Homo sapiens: one gene and its partner. The protein of the gene in region 1 interacts with the protein of each later gene in a pairwise test. Each region holds a gene or a part of one and is shown on either strand. Other genes may lie near its edges.

Region 1 (3,817 bases):
TGTGGTTTCAAATGTCAGCTACACCTGACAGCCCCCAAGGTGACATCTCCAGCGTAGGCCTGTCCCCTGAACTCCAGGCTCAGGCATCCAGCTGCCCACTTGACATAGCCACCTGGATGTTCAGGGGGCATCTCAGACTTTACATAGCCAAAGCTGCCACCGATTCTCCTCACAGCAACCCCTCCTGGTCTTTTCCATCTCAGTTAATTACTCAGTTATTTACACTGGTTGTTCAGACCAAAAACCTAAACAGTGTCTATGTTTCTTCTTTCCTAATCTCCTCGAATCCTTCGGAACATCCTACTACTTAAATTCAGCCACTGTCATTCCCCAGATTACCTCAGACACAGCTCCTCACCGCACCAGGCAGCCAGAGTGCCGGTTACGTAGAAATCAGAGCACGTTCCTTCCCTGCTTCAAGTCTTCTGGCAGCGTCCCATCGTATGGGAGTAAACCTGCCTCCTTGCTGTGGTCTAAGGCCTCCCCGCTCCCTGGGGCAGCAGGCCTCCCACACTGCCTTCCTCCTGCCCTGCCTCAGGGCTTCGCCTCTGCTCCTTACCTCTACCCGGGAGTTCTCCTGTGTGTGCACAGTCCAGCTTCTCATTGTTCAGCCCTGCTCCAATGCCACTCCCCTCAGGGTCTACCATTGCAAACCATGACCCTCCACACATTGCCCTGTCCCTACTCTTCATAGCACTCGTTGCTGTCAGAAAGTAGAATGGTGTGGTTCACCGTGCATCACCCTGCCTTGCTAGAACCCGGGCTCCGTGAGAGTAGGATCCAGGACCGCCTCTTTCCGTGCTGTGTCCCTGGCATCTCCTGAGGATGGTGCAGGCATTCCACAGCTGCTTGGTGACTCTGTCCGCTACACTGAGGCTCGGGTCAGGACGAGGGAGGGGCTGCTGCTTGTGATGGTGGCTCATCTCGCAGTGCTGGCTGCTGGGCAGCTCTGCAGCCACACTCACGTTCCAGCCAGCATCCTGGGCAGTGCATGGTGGTGTTTGTGCAGATCCTGCAAGGGAGACCTGGCTGCATCAGAGCAGCCAGCCCGTGGGCCCTGATGGTGCTGGGCACATATGTGACCTTTAATTCCAGAATCCTGCCCAAGACCCCTGTGGCCACAGACCCTCCGAAGGACACCTCATAGGAACAGTCCAGAGGCTGCAAAGCCCCAGGGGAAGCCTGGATTCTTGTTGGTTACATCAGGGCCCAGCTGTTGAGCCCCCACCCCCTGGGTGCTCTGTTCTTTCATCTGCTAGCTCAGAGGGTGGGATCAGCACCCCCAACCCCTGAGGCCTGCTTCTCTGTGGTTCCCCCAGCACCACAGAGGCCTGAGCCTGGAACTGTCCTTTTTCTTTGCAGTGACAAAATCCAAATGCCCCTCTTATGTGGGTATTACAGGAATCCTTCTACAGGAAACAAAGCACATTTTCAAAATTATCACCAAAGAAGACCGCCTGAAAGGTATGTAGGTGTTTCTGAGGGCATTGCTTGCGGGCTGTGGCTCCCAGCTACTGCGTTAGCCTTTTCCTCAAGGCTCCAAGAGTTTGATTTGACCCCTCAAGTCAGCGCAGATTGCAGATACTTGCTGAACCTGCATTAAAGCCTGCAGAGACCATCCCCTGCACCCGTGGCTCCCCCAAGAGGTGTGTGTCAGTGCAGCCTGCAACCCCGGCCAGAAATGGCCAAGGGGAAGGAAGACCTGCTCGGCTGTGCCTCAGGGGACCTGGGTCTGTTTAGGCCCCAGGAGAGGGCCTCCACCTGCCCCAAAGGCTGCTGCTCCCAGAGGAATGTAGCCAAACAGGCAGCAGGGTAGAAACAGGAGTGGCGCCTGTCCCTGGAGTTCTGAGCTGTGTCCTTGGCGATAACACTTGGGTTCCATCCGTGGCCAGCATTGCTCTAGCAGATACTTTGGGTCAGCCAGGATTTCTACACCCCGCCTTACCCACAAATCCAGAGATATCAAACCATAGTTAGAAGGTTTTGTTCCTTTAATTTTTCTTTTTTTTTTTTTTGGAGACAGTCTCACTCTTCCACCCAGGCTGGAGTGCAGTGGCACAATCTCGACTCACTGCAGCCTCCACTCCCGGATTCAAGGGATTCTTCTGCCTCAGCCTCCCAAGTAGCTGGGATTACAGGCACGCGCCACCACGCCCGGCTAATTTTTGTATTTTTAGTAGAGGCAGGGTTTCACCATGTTGGACAGGCTGGTCTCAAACTCCTGAACTCAAGTAATTCACCTGCCTCAGCCTCCTAAAGTGCTGGGATTATAGGTGTGAGCCACCGCGCCCAGCCTTCTTCCTTTAATTTTTGAGCTTGGTTTTTCTTGTTGCTTCCCTTATTTTCCTACATATCCTTCTACCTCACATTGTAAACCTCGGAAAGTGGTGTAATAGTTTCTCCACAGAGCATAAGGCCAGGAGCCCATCTGAAAGTTAATGTGGGAAAACCAGTTTCTGGCAGGTGTTCTGGGACTTTCTGGTTCTGGGAATTTGGTGTATAGCCTTTGACCCTGAAGATTAGGTGCCAAGCTACATTTAGCATGTGACTAGATTGACCTGTGGCAGAATAACCACAGGCAACCCTAATGCCCCTCCCCTTGTGGGTTTCCCGTTTCCTATTAGCTTATTTTTTTCATTCAATGTGTTCTGAATAATATTCTACCTAAAAGTAAAATATTAATAAATATTTTTCCTCATCTTTTTTTCTCCTGCCTTTTTTTTTTTTTTTTTCAGTTATCCCCAAGCTAAACTGCGTGTTCACTGTGGAAACCGATGGCTTTATTTCCTACATTTACGGGAGCAAATTCCAGCTTCGGTCAAGTGAACGGTCTGCGAAGAAGTTCAAAGCGAAGGGAACGATTGACCTGTGAATTCTTTGCCGTCTAAGGCAGTTGTTTATGACAGCTGAAAACTGGACACTCCCTAAATGTCCACCTTTCAGTGAAGAGATAGTTAAGCCAATTCCATTTATAGACCACCTCCAGCCAGTGACGCTCCGAGTTGAGGATGTTGAACAACATGGGAAGGTCGCAGCGTACTAAGTGAAGAAGTCAGAGGACAGAGGAATTTCTCTTTCTAGGAGATTTTCATTTTGTGTGACTCCCATGGGGAGGAACAGACTGGCAGGAAGCACACCGGGGTTAACACTGGTTGACTTGAATAGGATTATTCGATTTTTAAAAATACTTTTCCATGTTTTCTGAGTGCTCTATGATAAATCAGTTGCATCTGTGATAATACAGTACATATGTGGACATAAACAGGGATCAAATAAAGGAGGTATTGCTGCAGTCCAGCCAGGTTGAAAGGGAAGGGGGGTCCCCAAAGGTCCATTGGATGGCAGGTGTCTACAGAGGCTCGCCTTTGGGTGGAACTCTGACCCACCTAAGGTTTACTTTGCTATTTCAGGAAGGTTGAAGAGGATTGAAGGGTGAGTTGCTAAGTGACTTAGGGTTTATTCACTTCAGGAATCATAGCTGGGGTGGACCCCAGGAGCAGAGTACTGCATGCAGCTGTGCCCATGCATGGTTGCCCCAGCGTAGTGAGATGGGACCTGCCGCAGCATGCCCACTCCTGAGCTGCCAGGCTGAGCCATGGAGGACTGAAAGGAGGTCGCCCGGCATCACCTCCCGAGGTGAGACCTGCTGCAAAAGCCAAGCCAGCAGCATTGACGCCCTTTGATATCTTCGCCATTTTTGCTGCTGAAAGACTTGGCTTTTCAGTCTGACCCTGGCCCTCTGTGACCATGTGTCTGTAAAGCCAGTGGGTCAGGCCCTTCCATGCAGGGCCAGAGGAAAAGCGGGCCCAGGGCTGCA
Region 2 (3,817 bases), on another chromosome or scaffold:
ATTTAATGGTGCTGGCACTTTAGTTGCCTACTTACAGCTCCCCCTGCCTAGAATGTTCTGCCTACACCTCTTCATATGGCTGATGTCTCTCATCCTTTGAGCCTTCATTTAAATTGTTCCTTGACTGATCTTCAAGATGAGACAAAGTCAGCTTGCTATGTTCTTTCTTGTACAGGACACCATACTTTCTCTTTCATAATTCCCTTTATTCTTGTCACTAATTGTCCAACATGTTTTCCTACTACAAGAACCAAGACATTAGTCCATGTGGCAGAGGCCATGTCTGTTTGTTTGCAGCTATATAAACCCCAGGAACGAGGTTTTCTACCTGACACACAGGTACACACAGGGATATTTTTTTTTAAAATTTTGTATTTAAAAAAATTATAGACTCACAAGAGATCACAAAGAAATGTACAGGGATTGGCCGGGCACAGTGGCTCACGCCTGTAATCCCGGCACTTTGGGAGGCCAAGGAGGGCGGATCACCTGAGGTTGGGAGTTTGAGACCAGCCTGATCAACACGGAGAAACCCCATTTTTACTAAAAATACAAAATTAGCCGGGTGTGGTGGCACATGCCTGTAATCCCAGCTACTTGCGAGGCTGAGGCAGGAGAATCGCTTGAACCTGGGAGGCGGAGGGTGCGGTGAGCCAAGATCGTGCCATTGCACTCCAGCCTGGGCAAGAAGAGCGAAACTCTGTTTCAAAAATAAATAAATAAATAAAAAAGAAATGTACAGGGAGGTTCATGCACTCTTCATCCAGCCTCCCACAATGTCAATGTCTTGCGTAACTACAGTACAGTAGCAAAACTACAAAACTGGTATTGGTACAAACCAGAGGTTATTCAGATTTTACCAATTGTATGTCTACTCCTATTTATACCTGTGTGTGGCTCTATGTAATTTTCCCACATAGGTAGCTTCATATAACTACCACCACAATCAATGATAAAGAACTGTACCATCATAAGACTCCCTTATTCTACCCTTTACAGCCACACCCACCCCTCCTCCCCTACTCCTCACCCCAGCAACCACTAACCTTTCTCCAGATTATATATAGTATTTCAAGAGTCTTCTATAAATGGAAACACCCAGTATGTCATGTTTTGGGATTGGCTTTTTTTCGCTCAGCATAATTCTCTGGAGATTCATTCATATTGTGTCTAAATAGGTCATTCCTTTTCACTGTCGAGTATATTCCATAGTAGGAATGTACCACAGTTTATTCACCCATTGAAGGATATATGGGGTGTTTTCAGTTTCATTGTTATTAAAAATAAAGCTGCTATGAATATTCATGTACAGGCTTTTGTGTGAACTTAAGTTTTCAGTCCTCTGGAACAGATGCCCAGGAGTGCTAATGCTGGGTTCTATGGCAGATGCACGTTTAGTTTGTTAAAGATACTGCTGGCCAGGCATGGTGGCTCACACCTGTAATCCCAGCACTTTGGGAGGCCAAGGCAGGCGGATCACAAGGTCAAGAGATTGAGACCATCCTGGTCAACATGGTGAAACCCCGTCTCCACTAAAAATACAAAAAAATTAGCTGGGTGTGGTGGTGTGTGCCTGTAGTCCTAGCTACTTGGGAGGCTGAGACAGGAGAATCGCCTGAACCTGGGAGGCGGAGGTTGCAGTGAGCCAAGATTGTGCCACTGCACTCCAGCCCGGTGACAGAACGAGACTCCATCTCAACAAAAAAAAAAAAAAAAAAAAAAAAATACTGCCAAACTATGTTCCAGAGTGGCTGCACCATTTTACATACTCACTGTAGTGTATGAGTGATCTAGTTTCTTTGCATTCTTGCTAGCACTTAGTGTTGTCATTTTTTATTTCAGTCATTCTGCTAGGTACACAGTGGTATCTCATTGTGTCATTAATGTGCATTTCCCTAATGGCTAATGTTAAACATCTTTCCATGTGCTTCTTTGCCAACCACACATTCTCTTTAGCAAAATGTCTGTTAATGTTTTTGCCCATTTTCTAATTGAATTGTTTGGTTGAGTTCTGATACTTCTTTTTTATTATTATTACTATTATTTTTTTGAGACAGAGTCTCTCTCTGTCACCCTGGCTGGAGTGCAGTGGTGTGATCTCAGCTCACTGCAACCTCCGCCTCCCAGGTTCAAGTGGTTCTCCTGCCTTAACCTCCCGAGTAGCTGGGGTTACAGGCATGTGCCACCACGCCCGGCTAGTTTTTATAGCTTTAGCAGAGACAGGGTTTTGCCATGTTGGCCAGGATGGTCTCAAACTCCTGACCTCAGGCAATCAACCCACCTCGGCCTCCCAAAGTGCTGGGATTACAGGCATGAGCCACCACGCCCCATGTGTTATTATTTTTGAGACATGGTCTTGTTCTGTTGACCAGGCTGCAGTGCAGTAGTGCAATCATAGTTTACCACAGCCAGCCTCAAACTCCTGGCCTCAAGCAATCTTCCTGCCCTGGCTTCCCAAAGTGTTGGGATTACGGGCATGAGCCACTGCACCAGGCCAAATGTCATTTATATATTCTAGACACTATAGTCCTTTGTTGGATACGTGGTTTACAAATATTTTCCCCCAGTGTGTAATTCATCTTTTCATCCTTTCCCACCCCTACCCCCAGCCATGGAGGTGTGATCACCACTCATTGCAACCTTGAGCTCTTGGGCTCAAGCAATCCTCCCACCTCAGCCTCCTGACTAGTTGGGACTATCAGTGCACACCACCACACCCAGCTCAATTTTTCAAATTGTTTTGTAGAGATGGGGTTTCACCAGATACCCAGGCTGGCCTGGAACTCCTGGGCTCAAGTGATCCACCCGCTTGGCCTCTCAAAAGTGGTGGGATTACAGCTGTGAGCCACTGCACCTGGCCCTTTCATCCTCTTAAGAGTCTTTTGCAGAGTAAAAGTTTTAAATTTTGATGAGGTACTTAGCATATTTTGATTTGACAGACTATATGAATCACAAAATAATTTCCTGAGCATCCTGTCTTCTTTCAACTTCTGAAACTCTACTTCTCTACTTCTGTTCTCAAAGTTGCTTAAAATGCTGGTCTATGACAAAATAATGAGTTGAATCAGAATATAAACCAATAGTATCATTAATCACCATGTTTAGTTCAGTTCATCTTTTTTTCATGAGGAGCCTTTTTTTTGAGACCGAGTCTCGCTCTGTCGCCCAGGCTGGAGTGCAGTGGCGTGATCTCGGCTCACTGCAAGCTCCACCTCCCGGGTTCATGCCATTCTCCTGCCTCAGCCTCCCGAGTAGCTGGGACTACAGGTGCCCGCCGCTGCGCCCGGCTTTTTGTGTTTTTAGTAGAGACAGGGTTTCACCGTGTTAGCCAGGATGGTCTTGATCGGCTGACCTTGGGATCTGCCTGCCTTGGCCTCCCAAAGTGCTAGGATTACAGGCGTGAGCTACCGTGCCCAGCCCTTTTTTTTTTTTTTTTTTTTGAGACAGAGTCTTGCTCTGTTGCCCAGGCTGGAATGCAGTGGCGTGATCTCTGCTCACTGCAACCTCTGCCTCCCAGGTTCAAGCAATTCTCCTGCCTCAGTCTTCCAAGTAGCTGGGACTACAAGCGTGCGCCACCATGCCCAGCTAATTTTTGTATTTTCAGTAGAGAAAGCGTTTCACCACGTTGGCCAGGCTAGTCTCAAACTCCTGACTGTAAGTGATCTGCTCATCTCAGCCTCCCGAAGAGCTGGGATTATAGGAGTGAGCCACTGCGCCTGGCCCATAAGGAGACTTTCTCATTAAAAGTGGTTCTGCTGCAAATTCCTTATCTCTTCAAGATGGGAAAAGAGTTTGCAGGTGCCAGTCTAGGCCACAC

What was found.
Region 2: the proteins of POP4 (region 1) and RPP14 interact in binary tests that used the Homo sapiens proteins (3 or more experiments, as listed by UniProt).

What each region holds. Positions count from the first base shown.
Region 1 is NC_000019.10:29,612,509-29,616,325, forward strand, and holds part of POP4 (ribonuclease P protein subunit p29), read left to right. Parts: intron 1-1,362; coding exon 1,363-1,464; intron 1,465-2,735; coding exon 2,736-2,872; 3' UTR 2,873-3,817. UniProt on the Homo sapiens protein: Component of ribonuclease P, a ribonucleoprotein complex that generates mature tRNA molecules by cleaving their 5'-ends.
Region 2 is NC_000003.12:58,312,584-58,316,400, reverse strand, and holds part of RPP14 (ribonuclease P protein subunit p14), read right to left. Parts: intron 680-3,817; exon of another isoform or gene 582-679; intron 1-581. UniProt on the Homo sapiens protein: Component of ribonuclease P, a ribonucleoprotein complex that generates mature tRNA molecules by cleaving their 5'-ends.